Linked DNA regions of Homo sapiens: region 2 is reported to be linked to region 1. The links are microRNA targets in miRTarBase. Many come from high-throughput screens and were not tested one by one. Region 1 holds a microRNA gene; the other region holds the end of a gene's coding sequence.

Region 1 (7,652 bases):
GGGGTGGGACTGGGGGGTGAGCGTGACCTTTCTCCCTCCAGAGAGAGCTGAGTGAGATGCGGGCACCTCCAGCTGCTACAAATTCTTCCAAGAAGATGAAATTCCAGGGAGAACCCAAGAAGCCTCCCATGTGAGCCTGGGGGTTGGAGTCTGCCCTGGAGGTCGGGGAGGGTCAGGGCTGGATGGCTGCTTTGTTGGGGTCCTGACCCTCCTTCTACCAACCCACCTCCCAGGAACGGTTACCAGAAGTTCTCCCAGGAGCTGCTGTCCAATGGGGAGCTGAACCACCTGCCGCTGAAGGAGCGCATGGTGGAGATCGGCAGTCGCTGGCAGCGCATCTCCCAGAGCCAGAAGGAGCACTACAAAAAGCTGGCCGAGGAGCAGCAAAAGCAGTACAAGGTGCACCTGGACCTCTGGGTTAAGGTGAGAGGGCAAGGGACCCTTGGAAGGAACAGAGAGGCATCAGACTAAGCCAGCACCATCCTAGCCTGGCCCATCCACCCACTTGTGCTGGCTGGTCTCATTCATGATTTCATTCCATGCCCTCGCAATCCTTCAGGATAACGGTCACTATCACCCTTTTATTTTTATTTTTTTTTTTATTTTTTGAGACAGTCTTGCTCTCCTGCCCAGGCTGGAGTACAGTGGTGTAGTCTCGGCTCACTGCAACCTCCACCTCCCAGGTTCAAGCGATTCTCCTTCCACAGCCTCCAGAGTAGCTGGGGCTACAGACATGTACCACCACACCTGGCTAATTTTTGTATTTTTAGTAGAGATGGGCAGGCTGGTCTCGAACTCCTGACCTCATGTGATCCGCCCACCTCGGCCTCCCAAAGCACTGGGACTACAGGCTTGAGCCACCGTCCGCAGCCACTATCACCCTTTTAAAAATAAGGAAACCAAGGCTCAGAGAGGTTAAGTAACTTGCCCAAGGTCACACAGTAAGTAGAAGAATCCAAATCAGACTGCCTTTTCCTCCCCCATCTGGGACCACGGGACCTCTCCTAGACTCCTGGCCTTTGTGCTTCCCCTCTGTGCTTTGGTTGAGTAGTCAGATCTGTAAAGTGGAGAGAATCACCTGTGTCCTTCCCACTCACCAAGGCAGGTTGGCCAAGGACCCAGGAAGACTGTGGGGATTTGCTGTTTCAGGAGTTTGGTGAGCCCCACTGCCTCATCGATGGCTCAAGGGTTTGGTGTTGGGGTGTGGTTGATGATGCCAGGCTGACTCATCACGGGGGCACTTCTTTGGAGTGAGGAAGACTCTGATAGGAGCTTCCATTTGCGAAAAGCAACAGGGAAAATGTGAAAACCAATAGTCTTAGTGGTTTAGAGAAGGACTCTGGGTATCAGAAGCAGAAATACTAGGGTTTGGGCCAGCGCAGTGGCTCACGCCTGTAATCCTAGCACTTTGGGAGCCCAAGGTATGAAGGATCACTTGAGGCCAGGAGTTCAAGACCATCCTGGGCAACATAGTGAGATTGCTGTCTCTACAAAAAATTATAAGGTAGCATGGTGTGGTGGCACATGCCTGTAGTCCCAGCTACTCTGGAGGCTGAGTTGGAAGGATCACTTGAGCCTGGGAAGGTCAAGGCTGCAGTGAGCTGAGATTGTGCCACTGCACTCCAGCCTGGGTGACAGAGCAAGACCCTGTTTCAAAAAAAAAAAAAAAAAAAAAAAAAAAATTAGAGCTGTGTTCTCAGATCCCAGGGGCTCTCTGCAGAGACCCAAAATCTAGGGAGCCTGGGAGGGGTAAGATGGGGTGATGATATATAAATGCTCAGCCCACTGCCTAGCACTGGGCCAGCATGCTCAGTCAGCAGTAGTTGGCTATGTTCCAACCCTTGCCGCTTCTGTCTCCCCCAGAGCCTGTCTCCCCAGGACCGTGCAGCATATAAAGAGTACATCTCCAATGTGAGTCTGGGAGCAGAGCAGCAGTGGGGTAGGGGTGGGGGAATTCAGGGGTGTCGAACTCATGGCTGCCACCTTTGTGTCCCCATCCTGCAGAAACGTAAGAGCATGACCAAGCTGCGAGGCCCAAACCCCAAATCCAGCCGGACTACTCTGCAGTCCAAGTCGGTAAGGAGCCCCTCCCAGATGCAGGGGCGTGGGGCGGGGGGCACTGCCTGGAATGGTTGGGCAGAGACCAGAGACCACTGATGTGCCTCCATCCCTCCAAGGAGTCCGAGGAGGATGATGAAGAGGATGAGGATGACGAGGACGAGGATGAAGAAGAGGAAGATGATGAGAATGGGGACTCCTCTGAAGATGGCGGCGACTCCTCTGAGTCCAGCAGCGAGGACGAGAGCGAGGATGGGGATGAGGTGGGGCAGACAGGGCACAGTGGGAGGGGAGGGGAGTCCTGCCAGGAGGGCCACCTGGTGACTCCACATCCTTTCTCACCCCCCAGAATGAAGAGGATGACGAGGACGAAGACGACGACGAGGATGACGATGAGGATGAAGATAATGAGTCCGAGGGCAGCAGCTCCAGCTCCTCCTCCTCAGGGGACTCCTCAGACTCTGACTCCAACTGAGGCTCAGCCCCACCCCAGGGCAGCCAGGGAGAGCCCAGGAGCTCCCCTCCCCAACTGACCACCTTTGTTTCTCCCCCATGTTCTGTCCCTTGCCCCCCTGGCCTCCCCCACTTTCTTTCTTTCTTTAAAAAAAAAAAAAAATACGGTGGGGGTAGGGGGCTGGAGGAGCCCAGGCCAGGACTCTGCAGCCTCAGAGACATCAGCCCTTGGGGGTCCTCCTCCAGGGACAGCAACTATCAGACTAAGCCAGCACCGGACCAGCCTGGCCCACCCCACCCACTTCTGCACTTGCGGTTCCGGCATGGACAATGGACCGGAGAGTGGGGGTGGGGGGTCCCAAAGAGTTTGATGAGGCCCTCCACACCTGCGGCCCAATCCAAGGTGGGGTGGAAGCTTGGGGAAGACCCATTCCTTCCCAGAGGGGCCTGCCACCTGGACCCCTGCATTGGAACTGGAGGCAGGGAACATGGGGAGGAGGAGGGTCGGTGCCTTCAAGAAAACAGGCACTGCCCTGGTGGCCCTCTCCCCTGCCCCCTGCAGGAAGGAGCTGCCTGGACCCGTTCATGGGGGAGGGGGCAGAAGTGTTTTTTATATATGTGTATATATTTTTTTTTAAGCTCTGAGCTGTCAACGAGACGTTTCCTACCGATCTCGGCTGCCGTCTCTGTTGTCATTTCTGGGAGAGGGAGGGTTTAGGGGTAGATTTGGAACCTTTTAAAAATGGTCTTGATGTATGTGGAAGAGAGTATGTGTATGTGTGTTCCTGTACATAGCATGGGTGCAGCTGTGGATGTGTGCAAAAGAGTGTGAGTGTGTGTGTGTGTGTGTAAAGGGGTCTGTCCTAGAGCCCACATCAGTTTGTTGTGAATCTGGAAAAAGGGTCGGTGAGGGCCGGGAGATGTTGACCCTGGTGGGAGCAGGCTGAGGCTGCCCCGTTCTCCACATCCTCTGTTTTGCCCAGTCTCTGATTCCATTAGGGGGAGTGTGCTGAAGCCATTCTCGGATGCTTCCCAGACCAGGCTCCCTCTGCCAGAGTCACATGCATCCGAGCTGCTGGTCTCCATTGTCCAGCAGGAAGGCGGAAAGGCAGGCAAGATGGTGTGAAGCTTAAAGCTTGTATTTGATGGAAAAGGTCTCCCCTGTTCATCTGAGAGGCCAAGCCTGGCCACCCCAGGCTCAGAACCTGGGCTTCAAGAAATGTGCTGGGAGCTCCTAACTTACACATCCCTCCAGCCTTCCTTGAATCCTCCCACCACCCCCTATTTCCTTTAATTTCTCAGGTCTGCTCCCTCCTCCCCCAACCCCACAGCTGGGCAAGAAGTCTGCAAAAGCTGCATCTGCAGCTGTCTCTAACTCTTCCCAGCCATCTCCCGTATTTTTTGGTACCTTGATTCCTTGACTCTTAATAAGCCAAGCCACCTTATCTCTGTAGTTCTTATTTTTTTGTTGACTAAATTTGGGGGGTTCTTTTTTATGGTCATGTCACTGACCTATTAAATTGGGGCTTGGTGCTTTTCCACCTTCCCCCTCTGAATGAAAGCCAAGGAATGGGGGAAGAGCGGGAACTCTGCCGCGGAGGTGGAGCAAGAACGGTGAAGGGCCCTGGTCCCAGAGAGGCTGGTGGGTCCCTCTCCCAAAGGAAGGCAGACAGTCTCTGCTTTGCCTTGGACCTTGGTGCTGGGGGTGGGGAGGCCTGGGGGGGACACTCCCCACTCCCATTCCCCTTCCTTTGTCCTAATCCTGGAATTAAGTACAGGGGTTTATAGGTTCTATTTCTTCCCAAGAGCCCTGCAAAGAACCCCAGTTTCCTATTTGGATGCCCCTACACTGTTGTGTTTCAGTGGAATGTATTTTCATTTAAAAACAACTTTGAATGGGGCACTTTTTCTTTCCTGTTTTAAAAATTGAAAAATTCTTACAGTACAAACAGGACTGTCAGGGTGGGGGTGTTGGTGCTGTAAGAGGTCACTCTTGAGTGCATTTTGGCACTGGGATGGGATGGCTGGGGTGGGAAGACCCCCATCCCCACCCCCAACTTCTTTTCTAATATTTAAGGAGTGTTTTGTAGGATTCAACAACCACCACAACTTGAATTTGTATCATGGGAGGTGGGAGGGAGTGGCTTAGAGGTGTCTGCCTATGCTTAAAGCCAACTGTGGAAGTTTTGTTTTCCCTTTTTTGTATAATAAAGTGAAAAACAAAGGTTTGACTGCTGTCTGGTCACTGGAATCAATGAAGGTTCACAGGGGTGACCCAACAGGTTTGATCTATAAAAATGCTTGAAGCCAATTTGCCTTTTCTTCCTAGAACTATCTTCCTCTTCCCTAAAGATTCCATAGGCAACCTACCTTCACATTGTTCTGTGCTACTGTTCTTGCCCTTTTCTCAATTCCATTTGTTCACCTTGGGTTGTGAGACCACTAAAGATTCTGAGAAGTTGGAGAACAAATGCATTTTCACCCAAAGTACATGGTCTTGGGGAATTGGAGGTGATGAGCTACTAGGGTCAAGGGTTCGCCCTGGGCATGCAAGCCTTCCTAGTGTAGGGCTTATCGTGGGGAGTTGAGGGAGCACGCTCTCACTTTGAGCCTTCAGCTCCATCCCAGGTTAAAGGTTAAGGGTTAAGGATGACTTTCCTAGGACCATCTAGGCCTCTGATGGGAAGCAGGCTGGGCTGGGCTGAGATGACTCACTCTCTGAGATTAAGGGAAGACACCCTTTCCTGCGCAGGCCTTGGCTGGGTTCCTGGAACCTCAAAGGGCTGCAGACCCAGGTCCTGTCGGAGAACTCTCTCCCAGCCCTTGCCCCTATCCTATAGTGGCCAAACTGCTAAAAAGCTTGTTGTGCCTCTTGGCCTCCCACTTACCACCATCCTTTGAGGTTCCTTGCTAAGGTCACCAACATGTTCATTACATCTGGTGAACACTTGTCTTGTCTTTTGCCTTCTTGGTCTACTCTGTTGGTGTCAGCTCTTCCTCATTTTATCCCAGGTGTTCATGTCTCTCCCTTCAACCTCCCATTATCACGCATATGCAACCATTCCGAAAGGTGGTGCCGACAGAGACTGCTCTTCCAAGCTGCAGACCTGTGTAGACACCCTTGCATCCCCTGGGATATCTTGCAGACATCTCATACCTCAAGACCCGAAATGATTACCAAACACTTAGTCGTTCAACCTAGAAAGCAGAGTATTGGCCTTGACTCCTCTCTCCCTTTCACCTCGAGGTTCAATCACCTAGACCTCTCCATTCCACTTCCTAAAGCTGTCTCAAATCTGTCGACCCCTCCCACAGGGTGGCTCCCACAGCTGCCACTCCCATCCTATTTCAGGCCACCATCATTGCTCAACTTCTGCAAAGACCTCCTAAAGCTGGTCTTCCTGCTTCCACTCTCGCCCCCTACAGCCCATTCTTCACATGGCAGCCAAAATTATCTCAGAAATAAATCTGATTATTTCTGTACTGAAAATTTACCATGTCTTACCATGGCCCTACAAGGCTTGGCCCCCGCATTCCTTCTCTTATCTTCTCTCACCCTGCTCTTCCTAACCACTTACAACGATCCAACCAAGTGATCTCTTCTGTTCCTCAAACATGCCTACCTGCGGGGTCTTGGCACCTGTTCTCTCTGCCTAGAATGGCTATTCCTCCAACTCTACACATACCTGATTTTTTTTTTTCATTCTTTAAGCCTCAACTCACATGTCCTCTCACAGAGAAGCCTTTCCCAACCACCTGCTCTAGAGAGGCCTCCTCCATCTTCTTGTTTATGTATTTGTTTATTATCTATCTCCCCAAGTAGAAGACACCTTATCTGCTTGTTCATTACAGTAATCTCAGCACCTGAAACTGCCTGATATACATTTGACAATCAAGAAAGATTTGCTGAGTGGGTGAATAGGTCTGGCCCACAAGGCCCTTGGGGATCTGCTGCCCCCGTTAGCCCTCCCCCGACTCTAGCCACACTGACCATTCATGTCTCGAACATAACATGCTCTCTCCTAGGGCCTATACACATGGTGTTCTCTCTGCCTAGTTAATTCTGGTCTCCACTTAAAAGACCACTTCCTTCCCTGAACTCCTGAGAAAAAAGGTCTCCACACTATACGTTTCTTCAGCAGCCTGAATGCCTTCACACTCAGGCCTTATTTCCTTCACATCAGGCCTTGCTAGGCTGTAAGCTGCGCTAGGACAAGGTTTGTGTGTCTCTCTTGCTTGTTGCTGTAACCCCAGGGCCTCACCCAGAGTCAGGACCAGCTCAGGCCTTAGTGTTTATGAACTGGTGCTAACTGTGGAGACTGGGCACGTGCCCAAAGAGGTCACCACCACAGAGCAGCCCAGGCCAAGCACAGAATGAATAGTACAGTCTAGTTGTAAAGAAGTTTGGTATGAGGATGGCCATGGGTGGGGATATGAGGAAGGATTTAGGTAAACAGGGAGAAGCCAGGAGGATTTTCTGGCCATGGCGCAAATTCCTTAGGGCAGAATGTACTGGGCATATTTAGGTAAGAAACAGATCAGCATCACTGGAGTGAAGAATTCCTGAAAAGGAGGCGGGAGATAAGAGAAAACAAAGGTTGAGGCGATGTTGTTGAAGTTCCTGAAGACCTAGCTTACTTCTCTGTGCCAGACCTGAGTTCAACCACCTTTTGGGTCTCCATCAGCTGATCCCACAGTAACCTCAATATATCCCAGACTGAAGTCATCCTGTGTCCTCCCATGTCCTCCCCTGAGTTCCCCATCCTAGTAAAGGTGTTTTCAAGACCTCCCTCTCCTTTCCTCCACACACCTCAATCAGTAACAAAAACCTACTGCTTTTGCCAGGCCCAGTGGTTTATGCCTGTAATCCCAGCATTTGGGAGGCTGAGGCAGGCGGATCTCCTGAGGTCAGAAGTTCGAGACCAGCCTGGCCAACATGGTGCAACCCTGTCTGTACTAAAAATACAAAACTAAAATTAGCCGAGCGTGGTGGCGTGCGCCAGTAATCCCAGCTATTCAGGAGGCTGAGGCATGAGAATCACTTGAACCCGGGACGCAGAAGTTGCCGTGAGCTGAGATTGCACCTGAGTGACAGAGCAAAATGCTGTCTAAAAAAACAAAACAAAACAAAACAAAAAACC
Region 2 (3,000 bases), not on the chromosome of region 1:
TACATTTTATCGAAACTCTCCATTAACTATAACTTCCTCTTGCCCAAGTCTAAAATGTTCAGGGAAGGTCCATGCCCTTTTTTCTCTTGCATTTTTCCTTCATAGGAAGTATGAGAAGATGCTTTTTCTCCACTCAGCTTGAATCATGCTTTTGGTTTTGTCTCTGACAGATGCAGCTGTCTTCTCCTCAGTGCTGGCGCTCTGACTACCCTTCCCAAAGAACCACGGCCCTCTCCCTTTACTGTTCTATAGCCCCAGAACTGGGAGATGGCTTCCTAAGTTGGCTATACCTTGTCCACTTCCAGTACTGGACGTGCTCAGGGTCTAGGGTCACAGATGGTGCTATTAATTGAACTGGAACACAGCAGAATTGTTGCAAAGGTTCTAGGAGCCAGATTCATTCCTTCTTCATTCTTTGCAAAACAGTGGTACAGACATGGAGTCTAGAATTGACCCAGATGGAAAGTAATTGGTATTCTTAATATCCTGGGTGACTAATATCCAGGCAGAGAAGCTCCTGGAACCATAACTGTAAGTTCCTAGCTGGCTAGGGATTGAAGTCCTGGACAGTGACAGAGGATACCACAGTAGTTCAAGACTTAGCACAAGTCACCAACTGCTTCAGGGATACCTGGAGGGGCCAGCAAGTAGAGTGTTGGTGGCCCAAGCAAACCAGTGTTGCCAATACCATTGCCAAAAGGGCCTTTGGATCCTGGACAAAGCTTGGCTGCCGGCTTCATTTATTCCTGCTGATGGCTGAGAAGCATCTGTCTTCCATCCCACTTGCCTGTCCCAAGTTTTGTTCCATTTTTTAAAAATTTGTTGTAAACTGCATGTTTTATAAAATAAAAATAAAATATCGTTTGTTATTTATCTCATTAGAGAACTGCTAGTGTGGGTTCTCTGGCTTCAGTCTTCCTCTCCTTCCTTTGAAGGTAAAGGTCCGGAATCCAAAGTTATGGATATGAAAGGGTATAATTAGGCCGGGCGCGGTGGCTCACTTCTGTAATCCTAGCACTTTGGGAGGCAGAGGTGGGTGGAACACGAGGTCAGGAGTTAAAGACCAGCCTGACCAAGATGGTGAAACCCCGTCTCTACTAAAAATACAAAAATTAGCTGGGAGTGGTGGATGGCGACTGTAACCCTAGCTGAGGCAGAAAATTGCTTCAACCCGGGAGGCGGAGGTTGCAGTGAGCCGAGATCACGCCACTGTATGCCAGCCTGGGCGATAGGGCGAGACTCCGTCTCAAAAAAAGGGGAAAAAGGTATAATTTATGCCTTTTCTGGGCAATGCTGGGTCTTTGCTATAGCTGCCCAGTACCCTAAGTCAGACTGAAGATGTACAGTATGGTTTCCGTTAATTGTGTAAGCCGACAAACTACAGGTCCCAGGATAGCTTGAGACTTGTAGTTGCTCACAAAGATGGGTCCGGTGCTGCGGTGCTTCCTGGGAGATGTAGTTTCCTGTGTATTGAAACCTGGACTGCTCGCTGGCCGGCAGCGCACCGTTTTGAAGGTCCTAGCCCACCTGGGCTGGCTCACGCGCACGACTAGCCGCTCCCATACAGCACGCCCGGACTCTGTCGTCGCTTAAGGCCACTCCTATTCTACGGCTGACCCCTGGTGGTCACGTGGATCTGTTCGCCACGCAAGTCTGGGTCCTTCGGCGATTGACCGGGGTCCTTGCTGTTCGGGAGCCTCTCCTAAGCTGCCTGTTCGCGCGAGAGTTTGGAGGGGCGGGTTTGGGGTCGGTGTCTGATTGGGGCTCGCACCGCAGCACGCTGGAGTCCCGCTTAGGTACCAGTTAGCGTCAGGGGAGCTGGGTCAGGCGGTCGCCGGGACACCCCGTGTGTGGCAGGCGGCGAAGCGCTCTGGAGAATCCCGGACAGCCCTGCTCCCTGCAGCCAGGTGTAGTTTCGGGAGCCACTGGGGCCAAAGTGAGAGTCCAGCGGTCTTCCAGCGCTTGGGCCACGGCGGCGGCCCTGGGAGCAGAGGTGGGACGGATGCGGGCGGCGAGGCGCTGGGCGCTGAGGGTTGGGGATGGACTGAAGCGAAAGCAATGGCGGAGTCCTTAGAAAGGGGGCTGGTGTCCGTACGGGTAATCACTTACGGGCTGGAGGTGGGGACGCAGGAATCTTCGGTGCAGGATCCAAATGGGCCCTAGTTATTGCTCTCCTCGCTGGCCTCCTGGCCTGACTGAGGGCTCCCTGCCGGCAGTTCCCTAGTGCCTGTAGTCCTCACGTAATCGCCAACTTACCTCCTGTAGCTGCCACAAAGCCCCGTGAACCCTAGGCATGCAGTGCTAAAGTACCAACACTTAGGGCCTCACCTATCCACGTAGAGTCTGGGGCTGAGCCGCAAGTCCTGAGCTCGCGCTCCCACCCACCACCCTGGGGGAATCAGAGCCCTCAAGCGCTGGAACAGAGAAGCCCCTTTGTGTCCCGGCCATTTCCTGGAAAGTAGAGCCAGAGTCACAATGAGGCCTTTGAAAGCCTTGGGGTGAGGATTGGGGGGGTCAGGGAAAAATGGAGTCGGCTCCTCACACTTATGTTTTATTCCCACTCAAACCCAGGTGGAGCGACCCCATTACGCTAAAGATGAAAGGCTGGGGTTGGCTGGCCCTGCTTCTGGGGGCCCTGCTGGGAACCGCCTGGGCTCGGAGGAGCCAGGATCTCCACTGTGGAGGTAAAGGCACAACGGGAAAAAGAAGTGGAGGAAGCAGAGCCTTGGGAGGGCATGAGATCCAAGGCCTGGGAGAAGGATGAATGGAAATCCTGGGTTGATCCCATTCTCCTCACACCCTACCCCCTACCCTGTCCCCTGCTCTCATTCTCTCCTCTTCCACCAGCATGCAGGGCTCTGGTGGATGAACTAGAATGGGAAATTGCCCAGGTGGACCCCAAGAAGACCATTCAGATGGGATCTTTCCGGATCAATCCAGATGGCAGCCAGTCAGTGGTGGAGGTAACTGTTACTGTTCCCCCAAACAAAGTAGCTCACT

Evidence for each region. Region 1 holds the annotated microRNA hsa-miR-6782-3p (CACCUUUGUGUCCCCAUCCUGCA, at 1,981-2,003, shown strand). A microRNA usually pairs through its seed, bases 2 to 8, with sites in the 3' UTR of a target mRNA and lowers its output. Matches are read on the target gene's strand: a 7mer-m8 pairs with bases 2 to 8, a 7mer-A1 pairs with bases 2 to 7 and ends in A, and an 8mer does both.
Region 2: miRTarBase lists PAN2 as a target of hsa-miR-6782-3p. Seed matches in the 3' UTR shown: 7mer-m8 at 377-383.

Annotation. Positions count from the first base shown.
Region 1 is chr17:44,202,123-44,209,774 of GRCh38, reverse strand. It overlaps MIR6782 (microRNA 6782), which reads left to right and starts at 1,936; the gene lies at 1,936-2,004. It overlaps UBTF (upstream binding transcription factor), which reads left to right. Exons shown (of 21, transcript NM_014233.4): 16 at 42-130; 17 at 234-423; 18 at 1,864-1,911; 19 at 2,005-2,076; 20 at 2,178-2,321; 21 at 2,408-4,735. The coding sequence ends at 2,533. All of the region lies in intron 1 of ATXN7L3-AS1 (ATXN7L3 antisense RNA 1), which reads right to left. RefSeq lists enhancers at 471-1,670, 2,312-2,812.
Region 2 is chr12:56,314,814-56,317,813 of GRCh38, reverse strand. It overlaps PAN2 (poly(A) specific ribonuclease subunit PAN2), which reads left to right. Exons shown (of 26, transcript NM_014871.6): 26 at 171-878. The coding sequence ends at 205. It overlaps CNPY2 (canopy FGF signaling regulator 2), which reads left to right and starts at 1,826. Exons shown (of 6, transcript NM_014255.7): 1 at 1,826-1,993; 2 at 2,572-2,684; 3 at 2,848-2,963. The coding sequence starts at 2,597. RefSeq lists enhancers at 1,473-1,622, 1,703-1,752, 1,253-1,841.